Linked DNA regions of Homo sapiens: region 2 is linked to region 1. Evidence: fine-mapped expression QTL. A gene starts in region 1. The other region holds a variant in brackets. All regions are shown on one strand. Distances are between the middles of the regions.

Evidence for each region. PIP is the estimated chance that this variant, and not a neighbour inherited with it, causes the effect.
Region 2: its variant is the best candidate, but not a certain one, in a credible set for the expression of ZNF334 in esophagus muscle (GTEx, PIP 0.62).

Annotation. Positions count from the first base shown.
Region 1 is chr20:46,511,961-46,514,873 of GRCh38, forward strand. ZNF334 (zinc finger protein 334) reads right to left here and starts at 1,599. Exons shown (of 5, transcript NM_001353824.2): 1 at 580-1,599; 2 at 122-180. The coding sequence starts at 142. RefSeq lists a silencer at 1,639-1,873.
Region 2 is chr20:46,351,101-46,354,013 of GRCh38, forward strand. SLC35H1 (solute carrier family 35 member H1) reads right to left here. Exons shown (of 10, transcript NM_015945.12): 8 at 951-1,126. Among named protein-coding and RNA genes, the nearest start is that of SLC35H1, 12 kb to the right of the region's middle. RefSeq lists a silencer at 1-64 and enhancers at 180-771, 325-464, 475-534, 772-1,362. The variant C/T (reference allele first, on the strand shown) is at 1,508.

The DNA of each region.
Region 1 (2,913 bases):
AGTATTGATCGAATACTCTTCTCTGATGCTGAATTTTATACATTTCGTTTCATCTGCAAACTACTCTAAACCTCTTGAAATTCACTGTATAATGTGAGAAGTAAATCCCTGAGCAACTTACCTGAAATTTTTTCATTTTCATGTTCTCTTGAGAAAGGGCCAAGAGTGTTGAAAGCAGAGCTGGGTAAGGAAGAATGGCGAATGGAATCATGAGCGATTTGGCTCACACAGCAGCTCTACAATTACCTACAAAGCCACACACCCATTTAAAAACATGGCCCTTTGACCAGTCTGGTTCAGGAAGCAACATGTTGAGGAAACGTTCACTTGTCCATTTATAGTTCTAGAATGGTCTCATAGAGCTTTTCTTACTGAGTGAGTGTCAACAAATGTTTTCTACTGAATTACTGTCAATCTATGCCTCCTTTGAAAAAAATTGAAAACGTCTGAGTCCAATTAATAGGAGACTAGGTCAACGAAAGTTAGTATATACAAAGCCTGGAACACTATTTTGGCATTAAAATGGACTCTAGGATTAAAAGATTTCTTGGAATAGGAAAATGATATTATGTCACTTACCTGTTTTCCTACTAATGTGTTTAGCCACTTGAGATGACAGAATCCAGAGAGAATGAATGAAAGTGCTTTAAGGTGTTTGTCTTTTTGACAGTTTGGTTTCCCTTAGCTGCAGTTTCACAAGAGGACCTTTTACTAAGAAACTTCTTGTGGTAGGTAACGTAAATGTGGTAGATGACAAAAGCCCTGACCTGGTACTCAAAGGACCAGAATTCAGTTATTGGATCTGTCACTAGCAAACTGCATTACTGAAAAAAATATTTACTAAGTCGTAATTTTAATATAAGATAAATTGGTTTTTAGTCTTTCCTTTACCCCTATCGTGTAGCTCTGTAAGGGGTAAACTCAGTAAATCCCAGGTGAGGTGATGAACATGGTTGGTGCAGCTCTGAATAAACAGAGGGTGGAGATGGTAGGGAATGACATGTATGTGTTTAGGAAGTGATGAAGACATCATTTCCTTATTTATAACCAGTACTCCTTCCCTCCAACCCAGGACTCTCGCAGATACCTCCAGTGAAGTGTCTTTTCCTGTCAAATCTTGACCCTGCCCATTCCAGCTCACATCCTTCTTCCGAAAGTTGAACTGAACTTTGCTGAGCTATAATAATCAATGGCTGCAAGACTAAGTGCATCAGCAGAAGTTCTGGAAAGAGGTTCTAGCTACTTGGATGCGTAAACCTTTCACCTTCACCAAGCGCCTTCTTCGGGCAAATCAGGGCCCTAGAGAGAGCTCGCCCGTGGCCTGCAGGTCAGGAGCCCAATCCTGCCCTGGCTGCCTCGCCTCCCGACCACAGGAAACCCTCCCTCCAAAGACAGGGAGAGCGCGCGTCCACCCTCCGCAGACCCGAGGCCCGCTCCGCCCGGCCCCACCGTTCCCTCCGACGCCCGAGTGCTCAGAGCTCGCCGCCAGCCCTTCCTATAGGTTGTGGGTGCACCCGCTTCGCCTCCAGTTCGCACCAGGTCCAAGTCTCGGCGGGACCAGGGATTCACGGGCTGCAGGACCCTCACCCGGAAGAGCCTGGCGAACCGGAAGGGCGTCCAGGTAAAAAACAGGAACAGCACATGCGCAGAAAGGCCCCCGGGCCGCCTTTCCCGGGGCTCTCCCGGGCCCCCCGCCGGCTTTCCGGACCACAGTCCCCAGAAGGCGTCGCGGCCACCGCCCTACCCTGAGGGATCTTTGAGGAGCTTCTGCTTTAACTACAGAGTTTAGGTGACTGCTGTGAATCATCAATACGAAAAGTAAAGTTTCATATCCGTTTCACCGAAGTCTATAGATGAGAAAGGAAAATTCTGCGAAATGAAAATGACTGCTAAAGATATTCCAGCAGAATATAATACTAACGACCTGCAGAAAATTTCTCCCAAACAGGATACAAAATCATTGCTGGCTTTCAATACGTGAAGGTTGAAAATAAATCAGAATATCTCTGAAGAAAATGAACTATTAGCCGTAACCCCAATTCCCAGAGATATCCGAGTTTAACATTAGGTGCACATTCTTCTGACAGCTTTACAAAGAGGAACTCATATAGGTCTAGTAATTTGTTATTTTTTAAATTAGCAATATAGTTAATATACTTTAATACCACGAATTATCTCATATACATTGTGAGTAATATAGAAAATAGTTTTACATCCACAAGGAAAATACATACAATCATGCATGGTTTAACGATGGGGATACACTCTGAGAAATGTGTCTTTAGGCAATCTCGTCTTTGTGTGAACATCATGGAGGGTTCTTACACAAATCTAGACAATATAGTCTACTACACACCTAGGCTGTATGGTATAGCCTATTTCTCCTAGGCTACAGGCCTGTGTGGCATGTCACTGTCCTGAATACCATATGCAATGGTAACACAATGGTATTTGTGTATGTAAACATATCTAAACATAGGGAAGGTGCAGTAAACGTACAGTATTGTAATCTTATGAGACCACAGTTGTATATGCAGTACATCGTTGACTGGAACATTCTTATATTATGCATGACTGTATATGAATTGTATACATATTGAATAAATAGAACTTTATAAAACTTTACTCATTGGAAGGCATGAAAGTTTCTGACAAAGTTATAATGTATTATTATTCAATTCCAGAAAAGAACAATTAGCGACTGGTGGTAGCTAGTCTTCAAAGATGGCCCCCAATGAACTAAACTTCCCAGTATTCCAGGCTTGTATATTTCCCTCCCACGTTGACTTTGACTGACTCTGTGACTCTCTTTAACCAAAAGAATGCGTCAGAAGTCACACTGTGCCAGTTCCAGAAATAAGCCATACAAAGTCCTGGCAGCTTCAGCTTTGCCCTTTGAAGAGTCCTTAGACG
Region 2 (2,913 bases), 160 kb before region 1:
GTGCTTGTCATGGAATTCTGTCAGGAATAAAAGAGGCAAACCAGATCCCAGGCTGGGGACCAGGGTGTCCAGATCGCGCCTTATCCACAAGGATAAAGGACGGCTGCCCCAGAAGGCAGCCACAGAAGAGAGCCCTGAGCCTATGTGTGAGAATGCTGTGTTACCCCGGACTGAAGACACAACTGGTCCCGGGGCTCTCTATAAACAGAGACTCCAAACAGGACTGGCAAGGCCGTTCATCCAAGAACCACAGCCATGCCTCAGCATGCGGCTGGCCACCAGAAGACCCTTGGACAGGCCTGCATTTCTGGGTTTAGGCAACACTGCTTCAACACTGGTGTGTGCCTGGCCAAAGAGAAAAGTCCCTCCCTGCCCCTGAACAGGGAGGACTGTTGAAATGTGTGGGAGGGAGAAGGAGAAGTGAGAAGAGGTATGAGAGGGAAGGACAGGCCTGCGAGGCAGAGGTACAGCAAGGCTGGCCACAGGGGTGCTTTCTCAGGGTCTCACTAGCCCTGGCCATGGCCTTGGAGGACACCGCCAGTCAATCACGGAACTCTTTCCTGATGAGTCTGGATAGGGGCTGTTCAACCTGTGGCTCCAGGCCACTGCCCAGTGCCAGAGTTGGCAGTCAAGGTAAAATGTGAATGCATTCCAGGCCTAGCAGAGTCAGAGCTGGCTTTGAGGCCCCTGCTGTGCCCTTGGGGAGGGGCGGCTCTCCATCTGTGTCCCTGTCTGTGGGATGGGAGTGATCATACCCTCTCACAGGGCTGTGGTCAAGGCAGAAGGAGGGGCCAGCACAGCACTCAGCAAAGTGCCTGGCACCTAATGGGGCACTTCCTTCTCTTCTCTGCAGGGCCCTGGGGTGCAGGAGCTGGGACTGAAGCTGCTGGTGAGAAACCCCTGGGGGCTCCCTCTCTAAGACAGGACTGGCATCACGCCCGAGTCTGTACCTTAAAAATGCCGGCAATGGAGAGAGTGAGGCTGGAGGTTCTGGAGACCAGGAGGAACTCAGAGAAGCCCAAACCAAAGGCGAGAATCCCGCCAAGGAAGAGGCTCCCAAGTACCCGCAGGAGCAGCCCTGTGTCCTGGAAACGGAAGATTTTCTCAGATGTGGACAAATGGAGACCTGAAAGCAACAGGGAGAGAGAGTGGGAGGCCGGGTCCTGGGCTGCCTTGGCCAGCCCAATGCCAACCACACAAGATCTTCCACTGTAGTAGTGAGTTCTTACTGAGACCTGCTAACTGTCTGCAGCCCAGAGAAAAAGCATGGAAGGTATAAAGTGATCCCACACAGATGGCCTGAGACCTGGGGAAACCAGGGAAGCAGTGATGGCTGCCAGAGCGCCTGGGGGCAATACAAGCCAGATCCTAGCAGGATGATGCGGATCCTAGCGGGATGATGGGACCCTAGCGGGATGATGGGGATCCTAGCAGGATGATGGGATCCTAGCGGGATGATGGGGATCCTAGCGGGATGATGGGATCCTAGCGGGATGATGATGGGATC[C/T]TAGCGGGATGACGATGGGATCCTAGCGGGATGACGATGGGATCCTAGCGGGATGACGATGGGATCCTAGTGGAATGATGGGGATCCTAGTGGGATGATGATGGGATCCTAGCGGGATGAAGGAGATCCCAGTGGGATGAAGGAGATCCTAGCGGGATGATGGAGATCCTAGTGGGATGATGGGGATCCTAGCGGAATGATGGGGAGGGCTCGTCTGAGCCTCTGGGGTGAAGTAGAGGGGGGTGGCCCTGCATGGAAAGACGGATGGAAGTGCCCTGCACCTTTGGACAGTATTCCCTTACTGGTCTGTGGGGAGGGGCTCATGGCTGCTGACTTCATGGGGTCTTTGGAGCTGTGGTAACTACTGGGCTAAAGAAGGTAGGGCGGCTACCAAGTGACGAAGGACCAACAGTGCCCCAGCCCACTCAGGGAACTCCTTGGTCTACATTTCAGCCAGTTCACCTACAAACAGGGACAAAATTCTATCCCTACAAACGTTCATTTTAATCTAGGTCTTGCTAGTACAGAGCTGTGGGACTTGGGCTGAGATGTGTCCCCTTTCTGGACCTCAGTTTCCTTACTGATAAAATGAGAGGCCTGGGACCAGACTGGTATTTCTCCAACCCGTGGTATCACTTGATGAACATTTCCCAAAAAGAAAATGCAAACACATGGCCCCTTGCTCCAGAAACACAGGCATGCACACCCCCTACCCCAAATTCAGCTTAGACTTTCGGAGGAGTCATGGTCCCTCCAACACTGTCCATCTGGAAGAATGACTCCCGGCGTCCCTCCCACACGAAAGTCCTCGTGGTGTATTAGCACAGGGTGAAGGGGGGCCCAGAACTGGGCACAAGAGACAACTGTGGTAGCTGGAAGCTGGACGAGTATTTTGAGATTTTTGGAGGGAAGCACCAAAGAAATGCCGAGTGACAGTCCCCCCAGGCAAAACAGCCTCACAGTGTAGGACATCTTGTTTGGTGCTGGGCTCAGCAGAACTGCAAAGGCGTCGGCAAATTGAAGGGAATTCGGGGAAGAGCAGCATAAGTAATGAAGGCGCTTGGGGGATTAATTTACCAGAAAAGATTAAAGGAGCTAAATCCATGCAGCTTTGCCAAGTGACGACTACCAGGGGCTTTCAGATGAGGTTTTGCAGAGATGGGGCATGGTGTAAACACACGGGAGGGGAGGGAGAGTGTGGCGTTTGGTACAAGGGGGCATAATGAAGGAGTGGGGAGAGATTTTAAAGAAGGAAAAAAAACGAGGCCCTGAACAGAAGTTTCCTGGACAACGGGGCTTCAGAATAATTTTCTTGGGGAGGTTCAAGACGCTTCACTGCTTGAAACTTAAATGGATGTGGGACAGAATTTTCTGTAATGACCCTGAGGGCATTACAGACGGGACTC